2 separate regions of the Homo sapiens genome follow, and region 2 is linked to region 1. The links come from fine-mapping of genetic effects on gene expression. Tissue or cell type: whole blood. Region 1 holds a variant in brackets; the other region holds the start of a gene. All regions are shown on one strand. Distances are from middle to middle. Region 1 has its middle 53 kb from the start of LINC02648. Region 2 holds the start of LINC02648 (long intergenic non-protein coding RNA 2648).

Evidence for each region. PIP is the estimated chance that this variant, and not a neighbour inherited with it, causes the effect.
Region 2: it holds the start of LINC02648, and the variant in region 1 is the best candidate, but not a certain one, in a credible set for the expression of LINC02648 in whole blood (INTERVAL, PIP 0.89).

The regions. Positions count from the first base shown.
Region 1 is chr10:6,667,111-6,676,409 of GRCh38, forward strand. No RefSeq gene overlaps it. Among named protein-coding and RNA genes, the nearest start is that of LINC02648, 53 kb to the left of the region's middle. The variant G/T (reference allele first, on the strand shown) is at 5,181.
Region 2 is chr10:6,613,269-6,622,567 of GRCh38, forward strand. It overlaps LINC02648 (long intergenic non-protein coding RNA 2648), which reads left to right and starts at 5,448. Exons shown (of 6, transcript NR_120634.1): 1 at 5,448-5,508; 2 at 7,650-7,905; 3 at 8,442-8,594.

The DNA of each region.
Region 1 (9,299 bases):
TTTATATATAAATTATATATATGATATATACAATATAATATTTATATATGTTATATATGATATATAATATATGTTATATATGATATATAATATATAAATATATATTATATATATTTATATATTTTATATATATTTTATATATATATATTTTTTTTTCCTGAGGGCCAGACGTTGGTACATTGGACAGAGGCACTATTCATTACGGACACCAGACCATCACTCAGGGAACTGCAGTACAGTTTACTAAATGGGACTGTTGTGGTCGTGTGGATGACTGGGAGACTCTGTCTTATTATGGGCTTTCTACTTATATATTTCCTTTGCTATTTTTATTCATCAACATGTAACTGGACATCCCCTCTTCCACTGCATTTCAGGAGTCTGAGATGGAAAAGTCATCGGTGTTCACTCATATCACAGCTCTAAGTCACTGTGTGTATTGACAGTGCATTCCAAATGAATCCCATAAATGTATTTAGATATGTACATTGCCTTGAAAATTATGTAGTGCTATTTTGTATATACTTTGTGTAATGACCTGATGCTTATTTGCTATAAAAAAATCTATCAGTTTTTTTCTTCTAAAATGTCGAAAATTAAGAGTGTCACAAAAGTTTTTTTTATTTTGCTATAACTATTCTACAGTTATAGCAAAACTAGACTTGTATTATTTTGATGCCTTAATCCAGCCACAGCTGTGCAATATCCAATTTCCAGTAGCGGGGAAGAGTCAGACTCAATGTCAGAGGATCATAGCTCCCCCTCCTGGCCCTGTGCAATTTGTAAATCCTGCTTTTTTCGATTCTTTGGTTACCTATGTCAGACTTAACCCCTTGTAGTTATAAAGGGAAAGCTATCTGAGGATTCTCAATCTTGATTCTTTGGGCCATTTATTATGAACTTGTCAGAGCCAATAAACTTCCTGTGAAACGAAGTTGTCCAGATCAGCACTTTAGAACTTTCCGTGATGATAGAAATGTTTTATATCATGTTACCCACCGTAGTAGCCATGGGCACCTTTGGCTAATGTAACTGAGCAACTGAATTTTTAGTTTTACTTAATTTTAATGAGTTGAAAATTAAGAAGCCCGTGTGTATAGTGAATACCGTGTTACATAGTATAGTATAGACACTAGTGGATTCTCTCTGTAAACGTCTCGTTCTGCTGGGGTGTTGCCACTCCAATCACTTACCAAGTTTCCCTAATCGAGAAGAGGAAAGGACAGTTGCACCACACTGTGCCCAAAGTATCCTTTATTCTTCCTTCTGGCATACTTCCCAGCACTTGCTTCTTCAGGGAGCAAGGCATGGCTATGAGGAACATGCGGCTTATAGTTATTTTCTGTGTTATGATATAGTTTGCTTCAGCATCCTTAAGTAACAAAGCCAGCTCTGCACATTTCAGATATAGTAATCTTCAGAAAGGTGCTGGTATTGGCTTGGGTGACACATTATTCACAATAAGCCAGAGAAAAGAAAAAATTGGACATGTAAAGGTGGGCATCTGGACTTTACTACAGTCTTATCTATTTGTGTAGAAGAAATAAGAGATATTTAAGGGTAATCCTAGTGGTAGTGCCAAGGGGGATGACTGGTAATGGGCGAACCTTGAGCATCTTAATCAACAGCATCCACAGCCACCCCCTGAAACCACCCTGGAGAAATGCACCATCTAAGAAAAAACAGTGGCCAAATCTACCCACAGGCCCCTTTAAATAAAAATTCTAGATCGTCCCAAAGTAAATCTGATCCACATAAGAAGTGAATTTGTAAAGCAGTTAAAATTGAGGAGTCTTCATTTGTTTTAGAAAATGATCCACCAAAGGTTTTCTTTACATAGAAAGTCCTTCTAAAGCATTTAATGGTGCAATAAATAGCATGAATTTTTGGAGACATTATGTGAAAAGCAAAGATTCCCCTGTATTTTATAAACCAGAGACTAATGCTCTGAAATAGCCCCGAAGCCCATTACGGCTCAGCATTCCTTCAGGTTTCCTCAGGGAGCTGCCTATAACTTGGTAATGGTATTACTTAAGATTGAAAATTGTTTTGAGGCGGGTTTTATAGAAGACATGAGACAAAGAAGGTTTATTGTGTTGTGTTGTATTGATTTAATCTCTTTCTATCACACACTGAAATTGTTGCTTTTAAGGAAATAGATACATTTTACTGAGAGTTTCAAGGGAGCTGGGATATATTTTGCTAACAGATCAAATTTTCAAATTCAGCCTTTTCAGTCATTCAGACAGAGAAGAAATGGAATCATTTACAAGACAAATAAAAGGGAGAGATAAATGAGGCAGAAGTCAATGTATACAGCCCTTGCGATTGTCATTACCGGTCTCTGACACAAGAGGGAAGCAGAAATTAACTCAAGATGTCTCCCTATTTGTAATTCAAGTCATCCGCAAATAGTCCATTATATGGTAAAGTGGACAAGCACTTAAAGAAAATAGTTAAATGTTCTCATTATGGAACAGTTTATTGTTATTTTAATATTGGAAAGAACTCCCAATACCTATTTTGCTGCCAGAGGGAGTTTATGGAAAACAATGCACATAGGATTTAAGAGATTAGATTGAAAGTCAAACAAATTTGGAGTCAAGTTGGGCTCAGGTTCATACTGACTGGGTAACCTTGGACAAACCACTTAGCCTCTCTGAGCCTCTGGAACGGGATGATAATATTTGCCTATATCCCATAATTATTGCAAGAATTACATGAAATAACGTGTAGGAGGCACATATTTCCAACATAGGTGAAATGCCCCATAAATGGTAGCTGCTATGATTCCTTTTTGAAATTTCTTGAGATAAATTGTTTGCCACTCTTGTTTTGTGAGAATTTTTTTCCAGCCCTATTGAGGTATACTCAACAAATACAAATGGCATCGATTGAGGGTTTATAATAGGATGTTTTGATATATGTGTACGTTATAAAATAATTACCACAATCAAGCTAATTAACATATACATCAGGTCACATAGTTACAATATTCTCTGTGTGGTGAGAACACAATAAAATCTGTGAATGAGAAAAATAGAAAGTCTCAGCAAATGAATAGAAATACAAAGGAGAACCAAATGGAGATATTAGAATTGAAAAAGAATGAAGTGAGTTCAGCAAAGTTGCAGGATACAAGCACGATATACAAAATCAATGGTACTTCTATGCCATTAATAATGAACAAATAATCGAAGTGAAGAGAATTCCTGGCTTCATATCTAGCTTTCATGTGATAAACAGGGTCATGGTACTATTTGGAATGAAAGAGATTTATGAGGGCGATGATGCCTTTGTTCTCATATATTTAAAAAGTGGTTATGGTGATAGGGTTAAGGGCATTTATTAATTATTCTCTTTCTGAAAAAGCAAAGCTGTGTCACTTGTCAATGTCAAGGGACAGTGATAATATACTGCAAGTAGATGGGAAGGAAGTCTGGATACAGAGGAAATGAAGTATAATGAAGTTTTGGGGCACCGTCTTCTGGGTTGATAGTGTTCTCTCGCCCTTCTCTGGCACTTATCTTAGAGGCAGTGGAAGCTGCATCCTGCTGGGATGCCTCAGCTACATGTGCCTGTACTTTGTGGGTGCTCTGGCTGGGGATAAACAGATCACTTTGCTTTTTAGGTAAACAGAACAGGAAGGAGGGACACTGAGGCCAGACAGGACAGTTACTGGGAAATGGACCTAGCTCTTTGTTTAAAAAGCTCTTTAAGGCATGGTGGATAAAATATGTCCTTAGCTCTGGCCTGTTTTGTGCAAGTGTTTGTATCAGACAAGCCTTGCCTGAAAAGTGGAAGATTCCCAGGGCAGTGACATCACAGTAGTATTATAACCAGTGGGTAAGGCAAGAGGTTGGAATGTTTGAACCAAGAGGGCTGGCACTTAGAGCACTGCTTAGACCCTGAGCATGCATTGGATTGCTTGTTAGGGAAACTGAGGCAGAAACTCAATCCTATGTACTGGATTAAGATAGTGGGGCAGGAGGTACATTAAGTGGGCACTCTGAGCTTCCCCTGAATCCCTAGTTACTAAATCTGTTAGCAGCAAGAATGAGGATTCTGTTCTGCTTCTTGCCCCTTTTGGGGTTGGCCCAGAAATCTGCAGGCAGAACCAACAGCAACTGGTTGGAGAAAGCAGAGGCAAGGTTATATGAAAGACACTTACTGCCATGAAGATTAGTTGGCCTAATTAGCTTTTCTGCCAGATACTCGAAGAAGCTCTTAATTTTTACTTGTGAAAGTACAGCAAATTTAGTTCCTCTCATGAATGGACAGAAAATAAGTCTTCACAATCTCAGTCTAAAATGGGAAGGGGTTTCTAGGCCTAAAATTTAACTGGGAGGGTAGACAATTTAACTTTGCTTGGCCAACGCTTTTTATTCAACAGTAAGCTCAAGTTGCAAGTTTCGGAAAGTGTGACGGGGCCTAACATGGAACCCAAAGGGCCACCAGAGTACTTGTGCCAAAGAAGTTAAAGACATTGTCGATCACAGTACAGATGGATGCTTGCAGTTCTTTTACAGAGCACTGAGGAATGAGAGTTTTAAGTAAAGCAGGTGCAACCCATTCCCTGTTGAGGTACTTACCTACGATCTCTCTTCATTTAACGAAAATCCAGTTTGTTATAGAAAATTCTGAGTGATATCAGATGAATTATAAACCATGGTTTCCCCCTTTAGGATGGAATCTATTGAGTTAATGATTTTCTGCCAATGTTATTATCTGTTCTCTGAAAATGATATGTGTGATATGTGTGATATCATATCCCTGAAGACACTCGAGATGGCTGAAGGAGGAACAGCTTTCAGAACTTAGATCTTCAGAGCCCTTGGCCACTCTCAGGGGACTAAACCAAGATTTTGGCACCTCATTTTGCGTGTGTATAAAATATGTAAGTGACCTCTCTCCACTATTTTAAGGAAAGGCTAACCCATGCATATTGGAAATACAGAGGAAATGCACAATAGGGAGTCAGAGAAGAAGAATTCAAATACGATCAGGTCAGCTTTGCACAAACACATGAGACATTCAATTCCCAGGGTCAAAAAAGCGGATGTCAGATCGCTGCCAAGTCTGCTGGGAATCTCAAATCCCTCCGTGACCTGTTCCTGGACTTCCTTCCAGGCATGGTGCTGAAATGAGACGGATACTCCCTTACATTTTCTCTGGATTTG[G/T]GGGCATCTTGCACCAGATTCAGAGTTCTTTTGGCTTCAGCCCCTAAAAACCTGACTGTGTCCTCTCTTCTTTATGCTTTTTTCTTCTATTTTTCCCATTTTTCATGCATGCTCACAAACTGGTAACTGAGACTGATTCTGCCAATCCTGGAAGCATCCTCTCTGTAACTATTTTCTGGACCATGTCTCCCCTCCCTCTCCTCACCTTGCACTGGATTTTGAACCCCTTGAGCTCACATCCCTGCAGATACATAACACGCTTGAAAATGTCTATTGAATGCGTGAAAAAATGAGTGTTTTTTTTTTTTTTTTTTTGAGACCGAGTATCACTCTGCTGTCTGGAGTGCAGTGATATGATTTCGGCTCACTGCAACTTCTGCCTCCCAGATATCAAGCTATTCTCGTGCCTCAGTCCCTGGAGTAGCTGGGATTGGATTATAGGCATGCGCCACAATGCCCAGCTAATTTTTGTATTTTTAGTAGAGAAGGGGTTTTGCCATGTTGGCCAGGCTGGTCTCAAACTCCTGGCCTCAAGTAATCCACCCACCTTGGCCTCCCAAAGTGCTAGGATTACAGGCATGAGCCACCACCCCTGGCCTGCGAGTGTTTTTCTAGGGCTAGAAGCCAGGAAGGAATGCTGGACACGATCATGTCATCACTTTGGGAGCCTATGCCAGCTTTCTACTGAAACTTCCAGAAGATTATTTTTTCTTTTTAAAATCATTTTTGTCATCTTAAACATCTCTGTACGTGCCTATTCCTGCTTTGTGTTTTCTTCTAATTCCCAGTTCACTGGAAGAGTAAAGACAGTTGACATTGTCGGAGTCTGGGAAACAGTCCATCCCTCCCTGGCTTTGGTTACCACCAACTACCTCGGTTCTCCTCCTTCAATATTCAGTTACCATTACCCCTGGGGCAGTGTTTCTTATACAATATCAAAACACTTCAAATATATAGAGACATTAGCAGTCAAAATTTCCATCAAAGGGAGAAAATAAAACCACCTTTTTTTTTTTTTTTTTTTTTTTTTTACTGAGTCAAACTCAACATTGTCACCCAGTCTAGAAAATATGCTTTCCCTGCAGTTCTTGCTAATTGCATTTTACTGCTGCTGCCTTCTGTTCTAAAGAAGAGAAGAGAACTATTCTGGAAACTATAATTGGATGGTATCATCAGTTATTATTTCCGAGGGAGGTCAAAGGTAGTCATTAGTTTTAGCAACTAGTGGTTCAATGAAAACTACCTGCAACAATGCAATGGGAAGCCATCTCTTTTAGTGAACAGAATTATTTCATACTCAATATTTGTTCTCTCTCTAAATATGTCAATGGAAATAAAAACATATTTCCGAAATAAACGGTGGCTTTATGAAGATTTTTTTCTTGAGATACGTACAATTCTCACCTTGCTTGGTTGACTTAATAAGCCCTATGGAGGCAAAATGATATGTGTGGTTGACGTACAATCACAACGTAAAAAACATTCCCGAGGCTTGCACCATTTAAAGGCTTGTTCCAAAAACATCAGACTCTCCGAGAGAATACAGGTACTTCAAACTCCCTTTTCTTCTGTGAGTACCATTGACATTCATGATTATCTTAGCTTAGGTGTCAGGAAACAGCCAATAATTATTGTCCATTTCAGAAGGAAAAACAGCATAGAATTATTAGAGGTATGGTAGGATTGGGGTTTTCTGCCTTTCGAAGTGAGTTGAACATGAAATAACAAAAAAGCAAAAACTGTAAACATTTAGAAGGAAATTTTACCAATTTTTGGAAGAGAAATATAATAAAAGTTTTAAAGGGTTATTTGTTTGGAAACAATAATGATCTTGAAAATGCAGCTCGATCCACCAAAGCAGTCACTTCAATATGGAAGCGGATCCTCATGGAGAGCTCACAGCTGCCTGTACCAGCTCAGAATCCACTGGATCATTTCACTGATCTTGGATCTATCTAAAAAAGATTACAGAGTAAACAATTCTTCAAGCCACAGGATCTTATGGTGGGTATTTTCTGTTTTGTTTCTGTCTGTAAAAAGTGAATTATAAAAACAAAACAGAAACAAACAAAAACCCCATCTCCCTTCTTTTTTTCTATTCGTTATTCCTGAACAACATCCACTTCCTTTTCTGCTCTTGTCTACCTTTGCAATTTCTGGCACAGATGTGCTATGCTGAGTGCCAAGTTTAGGTCCACAGATGTCGTCATAAAAAACAGGAACTAGAAAATTAGAAAATCTCAGTGCTTTGCAATGCTTATTAGCGCAAAACTGCAGCAATATGCTTTATAGTTTTTACTAGTAGGCTCTTGGGGGCAAGTCTACTCATTGGTTTGTGGACTTATTCTTACTACAAAATGGATCATTCTGTATAGACCACATCTCTTGATTAAGAGATGTGTCTATGGGACTTAAAAAAAAGGTGAAACTCTGATGTATGATTCCTGGTGTACTGTCCAACAACAACAACAAAGAATTTAGGGGATGGAGGGAATCAAGATTCATCTGGTATATAGTTTAAACTCCCTCTCAGTGTAGAAATTGTCCCAGCAACATCACATAATCCTTGAGTTTTAGAGTTGACGAGGACCTTAGAGAGATAACAGGGCAACTCCTGGAACCCACAACCTCACATAGAAACTCTCTGTAGAACACCCAAGCTGGATGGCTGCTTAGCATGGAAACCTGTGCAAGACACATCATTACCTTTTAAGAAATCTCAATATTTAGAAACAAGTGCATTTTAGAGAATTGTTCTAAATTGAATTGAATTGTACTGAATTGTATTTCAATAGAAACAAAAACATATTTCTGAAACAAATGGTGACTTTATCAAGATTTTTGTCTTGAAATACGTATAATTCTTACCTTGCTTGGTTGACATATTGAGGCAAATGGTATGTGTGGTCGAGGTAGAATCAGAACTTAGATGACAACATACCTGAGGCTTGTTCCATTTAAAGGCTTGTTCCAAAAACAAGTGAATTGTTCTGTTTAGAGAGCTGATTTCTAGCCTCTTGATGAATCCATGCATGGGTTCCGCCTCTGACTTCTGGAGCCTCACAGAAAAAGCTGTGCATTCCTTTAGTGTGCCTGGCCTTCAGACAGCTGAGGTCTCCTGGAGCAGCCTCCATGGAGTTTTCTCCATTTCCAAATCATCCTAGTTGTTTTATTCCCCACTCCTGGATAGGGGTTCTTCTTACCGTCCCTCTTCACCATCACGCTGACCGTCTTCCTGGGTGAGTCATGGCCTGACTGTTCTTTTCCTAAAATGACGTGTAGGTGTGACCACCCTGTAGGGGTGACCTGATTTATAAAATGCATCCTTTCTATGGCACCCTTTTGTTACATTAAATTAACAACATCCTTCTTATATGGCAGTTAACAGTCTGTCTAAGAATATTTTCAGCTTTATGAATTAATCTGTGCCTCTTAGTTTATGGTAAACCATTCTGCTTTTTAATTCTCAATTCCGTTCGAGCCACTTCATGTAGGTTATTTGACTTCTTAAAGAGCGAGGCCAGTTTCCGAAGTGGTGCTCTGAAAGGTCCGCCATCTCAGAGAATCAAGTCTCACAGTAAGGAAAAAAAGAAGAGACTGGATAAAAGGAAACGATTTTATGGACAGAAACACACTCTTTTTTTATTTTATTTTACTTATTTTAATTTTATTTGATTTTAAATTCTGGGGTACACCTGCAGAACGTGCAGGTTACATAGGTAAACTTGTGCCATGGTGGTTTGCTGCACCCATCAACCCATCACGTAGGTTTTAAGCCCCGCATGCATTAGGTATTTGTCCTAATGCTCTCCCTCCCCTTGCCCCCCAACCCCTGACAGGCCTCAGTGTGTGATGTTCTCCTCCTTGTGTCCATGTGTTCTCATTGTTCAAGAAACAAACTCATTTTAAAAATCTATCGTAAGGAGCTTGAGACAAAAAGTGCTAAAACACCACAGATACTAGGTAAGCCAGTGGTAGTATTTAAAGACACTGAAGCAGTAGAAATTTGAGATGTTGTTCCAGATAACACAAGTACCTCCCACTGATTAACATTTTGTCCTACAGTTCTGTTTTAAAATTCTTTTATGGGTGCTGGGAAAACTGGCTAGCCATATGCAG
Region 2 (9,299 bases), 54 kb before region 1:
AAAATCAGGATACAAATATCCAACATATTTGGTAACACGCAAGAGAGCGGTCACTTTGATAAGAGCTGGTAGAGCAGGCTTACCTGAAAAGCCTCTAAGAATTTCCAGGCCATGAAGAGTGTTTATTGGAGATTTATCAACATGAGTTCAAAATGAGACCAATCTGTGAACTAGAGCAGACCCCAAATATTGGTCTGGGTGAAAAAATCGACAAAAATAAGGACTTGGGCTTGCCTAATGTTGCTTTCACTAGGTTTTACCATGTACTTAGCAAGAAAGTAAAGGAGACATTTAAAATATGAACATTTTGTAATGGGGTAAGGGATCATTGTTCTCTGATCCCTTACCTGTTCCTGCTATAGATGAATCCAGGATTCGGTGGTGCCTGTTCCAGGAACCTTTAGTGTGAAGGATCCTCCAGGTGAGAGAAGCCTTTATGTCTTCTGAAATGGTTCTGCTGTGTCCCCACCCAAATCTTGTATTGAAGCTCCCATAATTCCCGCGTGCTGTGGGAGGGACCCAGTGGGAGATAATTGAATCATGGAGGCAGTTTCCCCCATACTGTTCTTGTGGTAGTGAATAAATCTCACCAGATCTGATGATTTTATAAGAGGTTTCCCCTTTCACTTGGCTCTCTCATTCTCTCTTGCCTGCCGCCATATAAGATGTGCCTTTTGCCTTCCACCATGATTGTGAGGCCTCCCCAGCCACACAGAACTGTGAGTCCATTAAACCTCTTTTTCTTTATACATCAGCCAGTCTTGGGTATGTCTTTATCAGCAGCATGAAAACAGACTAATCCACCTTCTTTGGGCTTGATGGGTGGGGATAGGGAGAGGTGGAGATAACCTGCCTCACTGAGACCTATCATCTGGGTTCTAAGTGCATAATTCCTTGCTGGCCCCAGATACTGAACCAAGTTCTCCTGTGTTTAATTTCTTGCCTTTCCTTCGTGTCTACTCGAAGTTTCATGGCATCAGACGAATCTCTGCCCCAGCGGGGTCATATGAATTTCTTCTGAAACACTCAAATGCATAGGGCAATGAGAGAGTGGAGCATCAGCAGGCTGACATCTGTTCTTTAAGAACTCTTTAGCAGAAATAGTCAGACATAAATGTGCATGCTCATTTAAGCTACGCTCTAGGACACAGTTTCTCTAATGGCATCTTGTGAGATGTCACTGGTGATTCTGCAAGGGAGTGTGAATGAAAAAGTAAACCCTAATTAAAAAAATTTTTTTTGCAGTAGGTTACTGGGGGTACAGGTGATGTTTGGTTACAGTTCTTTAGTGGTGATTTGTGAGATTTTGATGCACCCATCACCCGAGCAGTATACACTGCACCCTATTTGCAGTCTTTTATCCCTTGACCCCTCCCACCCTTTCCCCCAAGTCTCCAAAGTCCATTGTATCATCCTTATGCCTTTGTGTCCTCACAGCTTAGCTACCACATATCAGTGAGAACATACAATGTTTGCTTTTCCATTCCTGAGTTACTTCACTTAGAATAATAGTCTCCAATCTCATCTGGGTCACTGCAAATGCCGTTCATTCATTCCTTTTTATGGCTGAGAAGTATTCCATTGTATATTTCTACCACAGTTTCTTTATCCACTTGTTGATTAATAGGCATTTGGGTTGGTTCCACAATTTTGTGATTGTGAATTGTGCTGCTATAAATCTGCAAGTATCTTTCTCGTATAATGACTTTTCGTATGAATCTGCAAGTATCTTTTTCTTATAATGACTTCTTTTCCTCTGGGTAGATGCCCAGTAATGCGATTGCTGGATCAAATGGTAGTTCCATTTTAGTTCTTTAAGGAATCTCCACAGTGTTTTCTATAGTGGCCATACTAGTTTACATTCCCACCAGCAATTAGAAGTGTTCCCTGATCACTGCATCCACGCCAACATCTACTGTTTTTTGATTTTTTGATTATGGCCATTCTTGCAGGAGTAAGTTGGTATCACATTACGGATAAACCCCAGTTTTTGAACTTCACATACTGCACAATGCTGGTGATGTAGCAGCCCTGTTGGGATTTTGTTAGGGATCCTTAATCCTTGTTGTGTTGCTGTGAACAGGACTGTGTTTATTTGCAGGAGTCCATTCTCAATTTTCTGTGCAAATTGGGGAAGGCTGTTGATAATCGGTGGATGCTATAGTGCCCATGGAAAGACTCTAGTCTGAAGATACCAGTCTCTCCCTCCCAAGATCACCTCCCCTGACCAACCTTCTGCACTCCTGACAGATACAAGGGAGCAAGCAAGTTGCACCCAACCTAATAGTAAATTGCAGGGACATTTCCATTCTAAGGAAGGAATTTTTGTGTGTGTTGCAACTCAGCTTCTGCTCTGGCATTTTGCTGTGGTAAGCATTGCAAGGCAAGGTTTATATAGGTTAGAAGAGAATTTTATTGTGACATTTTCTTTTTTTTTTTTTTTTGCAATTTCTGTTCAAGTATTTATTATGCCCTCTGTGTTATCATTTATTAGCATTTATATTGCCAATCATGTTGGAGAGTCCATGTGGTGATTTCTGAAAACGAGATGTGAGAAAGAAGAGGATAATTTAAGTCTAGACCTACAGATTGTGCTGATAAAGTGATGAAGAACTACAATCTTCTTAGTCATTTCATTGTATAAGTGCAATAAAGGGTATGTAATAAATTTGTATGTTCATATTTACAACGGAAACTGCTTATCAATGAATTTCACGGGGCATTTGTGTCTTGCCAGATTTTGTGTCTTTCCTGGCAAACAACTTGTGACCACAGTGATGGCTCCAGCAGAATGGAAAAGACCCTTTACCTCACATCTCAGAAGTAAAGATGCTGATTATTTGACATCGCCATTGGAATCTCAAAACAGTGTAAAGCATTTGCTAAAAAGAGTCACTTTCTGAGAAATGACTCAGAATTCGACTTACGTACTAGCAGAACTTATTGCCCATAAAAGGAAAGGCCACACTTTTTGTGAAAACTTAATAATCCCTAGGATGTAAAATTATACTGAGTTAAATCCTAGTCCCATTTTTAGTACAAGAAACTGGAAAAAAATAATCCACTCTCAAATGGTAAGACAAATTGAGATATTGCTGAAAAGCCTCTTGACCCTGAAAAGTTCTGAATAATAAACTGATAAAAGCAGCAGCAGCATCTAACTTGACACCAGTCATGTCATTTGTAAGTAAGGTTGGTAAATAGTAATGAAATTCAAGCAATATTTTCAGCTATGAAGAGCTGCTCAAACCAAGCAAAGGCCAAGATCTACTTTAAATTTTGTCTACGTATCTTTAAACAAGGCATCTGTCTTGGGGGCATTGTGTTAGCATCTGTACCGGTAACACCTCATCCAGGGTTGGCTTGATAAGAGGCTTCACATTTTTTGTAGAATAAGAAAAAAACCTGGCATTGTCACAACACACTGATTTGTTCATGCAGTAGTGCTTGGGGTCAAAAACTCTTGGAATGACCAGGCAGAGTGGCTCACACCTGTAATCTCTGCACTTTGGGAGGTCAAGGTGGGCGGATCACTTGAGGTAAGGAGTTCAAGACCAGCCTGGCCAATAGGGTGAAACCCCATCTCTCTTTTTTTTTTAAATTATACTTTAAGTTCTAGGGTACATGTGCACAATGTGCAGGTTTGTTACATATGTATACATGTGCCATGTTGGTGTGCTGCACCCATTAACTCGTCATTTACATTAGATATATCTTCTAATGTTATCCCTTCCCCCTCCCTCACGCTGCGACAGGCCCCGGTGTGTGATGTTCCCCTTCCTGTGTCCAGGTGTTCTCTTTGTTCAATTCCCACCTATGAGTGAGAACATGCAGTGTTTGGTTTTCTGTCCTTGCAATAGTTTGCTCAGAATTTTTTAAACCCCATCTCTACTAAAAATACAAAAATTAGACAGGTGTGGTGGCGGGCACCTATAGTCCCAGGTACTTGGGAGGCTGAGGCACTAGAATCACTTGAACCAAGGAGGCGGAGGTTGGGGTGAGTTGAGATTTCGCCACTGCACTCCAGCCTGGACAACAGAGTGAGACTCTGTCTCAAAAAAAAAAAATAAAGAAAAGAAAGTAACAAAAGGTTTGAATGCTCCTGCAAATACAGTCAAACAGGGATAAGTTCAACTGAGATTTTTAAAATTTTGTGAAAAGTCAGATAAAGAGACATCATCTTCTCCTCCAAACAGAAATGTCATGACTGTGCTTGAGGGATACTTTCAAGATGACACAAAACCAGGTTTTTGGAGTGCTTTGAAGATGGAGAATGGCTTATTAACACTAGTCACATTGGCAGATGTTTTTCATAACATCAACCAGTTGAATAAGCCTCTGCACAGCCCTGGAGAAAATGTTTTCACCAAAAATGTCAAGAGTTTTTGGATTTAAAAGAAAACTAAAGTTTTGGAAAAAACCATGAGGCAAAAGAAATCCTTGAGATGTTTCCATTGTTGCTTGGGCCTGGGGCCATCAGTAAGTCTCAATTCTTATTGAGCAGAACCTGGCAGCACTGTAGAATGAAACTGAACCATACCTACCCTCTCTTTAAACACAAGTGCATGACCAGGCGAGGGAGCGTTTCGTTGAATCTTTGACTCAGTCTGAGAACAGAGTCTGGAGAGAAGAGGAAGAATCCTGCACCCCATGCAACCCCAGACTCTCTAGATGGGACTCACATATCACTCTGGAGGCGAGTCCTGGGTTTCTGGGTAAGAGAGTGCTCTGTCAGCCTCAGGGAAACCATGAACACTTCACTGCAGTTGCAACTTCCCGCACATAGGAACAAATTTTCTGTTATTTAATAAACACCAAGAGCAAGGGAAAAAGTTGTAGCCCTTCAGTTGACAATGACATCTGTGTGTACCTCAAGTTTGACTCAGAATTGAATTTTTAGGCAGCACATGTGTCACATTAAAGAAGGTCAAGTTGATCACCAATGACCAATGGTTTAATCAGTCACGGCTTCGTAAAAACTAAAAAGGACAGAATTCAGAGGGCTTGCAGTTAGTGGAACACGTGGAGGGCCCTGGAGGGTGTCATGCCCAGGACATGATAGCTCTGTACCCCATCCCATGTATCTCACCATATGCATCTCTTCATCTGTGTCCTTTGCAACATTCTTTAGAATAAACCAGTAAATGTGTTTCCCTGAGTCCTGTGGGCTGCTCTTGCAAATTAATCAAACCCAGGGAGAGTCGTGGAAACCCTGACTTGATGCCAGTTGGTCAGAGTTCAGGAGGCTTGGACTTGCAACTAGGAGGAAGGAGGGGGTTGGGGACTGAGCCTACAACCAATGGGATTGGTCACTATCTCCAGGTAGATAGAGTTGGAATTCAGTTGGAGGACACCCAGCTGGTGTCCACTGCTTGGTGGTGAGAAGAAACTCCCACACCTTTGGTCACAGAAGTCTTCTGTGTTTATTGTTCTAGTGTGAGAACAGAGGAGAAGCCTGGTTTGAGTGAGTTTTTCCTGAAGCAAAAGGGAAGAGCTTAATTTCAAAAGGTAAGTTAGTTATATTTTTCTCTAGGAAACAATTGATTGCTTAAAAAGATATGATTAGGCCGGGGGCAGTGGCTCATATCTGTAATCCCAGCACTTTGGGAGGCCAAGGCGGGCGGAACACCTCAAGTCAGGAGTTTGAGACCAGCCTGGCTAGCATGGCGAAACCCCGCCTCTACTAAAAATACAAAAATTAGCTGGGCATGGTGGTGGGCGCCTGTAATCCCAGCTACTCGGGGGGCTGAGGCAGGAGAATCGCTTGAACCCAGGAGGCGGAGGTTGCAGTGAGTTGAGATCATGCCACTGCACTCCAGCTTGGGCAACAGAGCGAGACTCCATCTCAAAAAAAAAAAAGATATGATTAGTTTTAAACAAGGGAAACAAATTCCACTTGCATGTACTATGTGTCACACATCTTTAGCCTTTTGTATCCTGAACATCATTTAAAACTTCCCTCCAGATTAGAAAGTTGAAGTCTGCTCATGGGGCCTTCAGTTGCTGTCTTAGAAATTCACTCTCAGGGTGTCAGAAAGTCCATCCTCCATAGGCATTTACAACAAGGAATTTGATTCCTTCTATCCCTGGTCAACTCCAGGCTTTTTAAAAAAGTAGCTTAATAAATATTAAGAGTGCATTTTTCTTTGTGAAGTTTGACACTCATTAATTAACACAATTGTTGGAAATGGGAATTTTTTTTTTTTTTTTTTTGATGGAGTCTCACTCTGTCACCCAGGCTGGAGTTCAGTGGCATGATCTTGGCTCACTGCAACCTCTGCCTCCTGGGTTCAAGCGATTCTCCTGCCTCAGCCTCCTGAGTAGCTGGGACTACAGGCGCGCACCACCATGCCTAGCTAATTTTTGTATTTTTAGTAGAGGCGGGGTTTCACCATGTTAATCAGGCTGGTCTCGAACTGCTGACCTCGTGATCTACCCTCCTCGGCCTCCCAAAGTGCTGAGATTACAAAGATTAGTGGTAGTAAAGCGGTATGGGTGGCCTAAAATATTTTAGAGACATTACTTACACTTAGAATAGCAAATTACATCCCTATCTGGGCCTGTGTTTAGAATGAGTCAGACGGTTTTTTGTTGCCTGGTGACAGGCGTTGGGGTCACAGAGTCCTCTTTCTGCGATGTTGTGTATGACCCAGAGAGTCTCTGGCAAGATGTGGACAGATCTCTAAAAGGTCGGGGAGCTCAGTCTCCACGAAGCTTGCAGAACCCTCCCCATCTGCCTGCTAATAAACGATTACGTATAAAAATGTCTAAATACGTGGTGGTGTTGAATCTGTGACTTGGTTTTATTATAACCAGGTGGCAGGAAAGTAGCCAACCCTCACTCACATAGAACTTTCCACACTACTGTTTTCTCTTCCAAAATAACCAAGAATTTTTCATGGTCAAGTACAAGTGGAAATGGCTGTCGGTTTGCAACAGCCAGGTTTACCAATGGATAGTGTTTTGCCAGGGGGTGGGACCTAGAATGAAAGGGGCAAGAGATCTGAAGGATGGGCAATGGGAGTGGTTGCACTATGGATCTGTAGAATATTCATCCTCCTAAACTGAATTAGGAGGAATGTAGTCATGGGGGTGGTTAAATGATGAGAAAATATGATGGAGTCTACTGATTGACATGAAGGAAGAATTTTTGCCATGTTCTTTTTAATGTTTTTCTTTTTCTCCTCTAAAAATAAGATTTCAGTAGTGTGACCACAAATTAAACCTTAATGACACCCTAAGTAAAGAAGAGACTGGCCCCTCAGGGAATCCTTTATTATTTAGTATGGTAACTTGCTTCTTGATTTTACAAATATGAATTCTCTTGAAGAGAAATTTTGATCTAAGGCCAACTTTTCCCTTAATGGTTCCTTTGTGTCCATGAAGAGATGGTAAATGCATACAAAGTTATTAGCAGCACTTTTCATAAAATAAAATTTAACACAGAAATTTGCTGCAAAATTAACTGCCAAAAGTTTTATATAGAAATGAATTTCGGGTTAACCACTATTTTATTTTACATTGAACATGGAAATTCACAGAACTTATTGACTTTATTATTCCACTATGTTCTTTCAACATAATTTGCTAGTCTATTAAACTCTTGCCCAGGAAAATAAACCTGAAAATAACCTTATTGCTCATTTCAGGAATATCTTGAAAGACGCATCAACTCACCATTAGAAAACATGAAACGACAGATTATATCCTAAGATTGTGTGAACCTCTTACCTGGAAACCCGTACAATTGCTTTATCTACCAATCCTAAACTATTATATCTTGATCTTTACTCAATCCTAATTACACACCCACATTGAAAGACCTATCTTAATTCAGACTTCAAAATCTTACAAACGTCCAAGTCCCTCCTTTGAAATGCTACTAAGACTGCAGTAAGAATACATGTAAGTATAAACATATCTATATTAGCTTTTTTTAAAACAACAGTGTCATTATCCTTTTTGTGAAACCATATGCTAACATTTATTGAGCATTAATAAGCACTGGGGCTGAGCACCTTCTCACACTGAGTTCTCAAGACAACAGTGTATGAAAGGTACTATTATTATTCCCACTTTACAGAATGGGAAAATGAGGCTTAAAAACATTAAATGCAGTAATTTCCCTATGGTTGCACAAGTAGGAAGGAGAGGGGGCCAGGAGCCCTGGTCGTTTACCCTCAGAGTCCACCTTTTGAACCAATGTTAATCTTCTTTCCAATTCTTTTAGATAAGAATGGTTCTTAATCATGTGCTGCATGTTTCACTGAGTTTTCTTCTTATCTCCTCTTCTAATCGAAACCAGAAGACCCAATATAATATCTAGTGTTCTCACCCAGCCCACATGCTCAATGCTGTAAAGCTGAAAATGGATCCAATGCTGTCGCAGAGAGGCAGAGAGTGAATTCCCAAGAGTTATGAGTCATCCATTCCCCTTTCAGAGCATGCAGTGACTGAGAGGAAGAGAGATACTAACACTTGAAGTAATCCAGTCTATCAATAGGAGATGGACTGCTTTGATTTAAAGCGATTTACAAAAGGATTTGGATACCTCATCTCTCCTGTTTCGCCAAGGTCTTGACTCATCGCTGCAGGTTGTATAATTAGTCTCATTAATCTAGCAAATGATGGCAAAATGCTTGGTAATGATGTCTAACTGGGGTTCCTTTCCAAGGAACCTTTGTTGTTTAATTAGGAGATAATGGATGAGCTTGTAGAGAGACCAGGGTTATAAAAGGCAGTAGCATGTCAATGTGCCCATGCCTAGTTCAATACAATGGTTTTTAAGCCAAGTATTCAAATAAATTGACATTATGTAGGTACATGAATTTAAAAGGGGTCATTATTCACTAACTATATTTTAACATATGCTTAGAGCAACCCATTACTGCTGGGGATAATAAACGGTGCCCAGATGAACAACCACATTGCATACAAAGGATGGTGTCTGAGATCACTACTGGGCCCGACTTAGCCACCATCTTTCCAAATAGAATCATAGGTTTGGAAATTTATCCCTTCTATGGATGAAGCACCAAACTATTAAACTGCAAAACCATTCTGTATTTATTCTTTCCAGCTGCAGTTCCCTTGACAATAAATGAAGAGTTTGTCCTCTGATTATGTTTGATTTGTTCTCTTATTTACCCCAAAAGATTATATTAAAATTTATATTTCAGTTTGGATGGTTTCAGTTGTAAGTAACCAAAAAGCAAACTCAGACTGTCTTAAACAAAAAGGGAGATCTAGCGGCTAGAGGCAGAGCAGGCCTAGCTCTTGAATCAGAGTCCTGGTTTTAG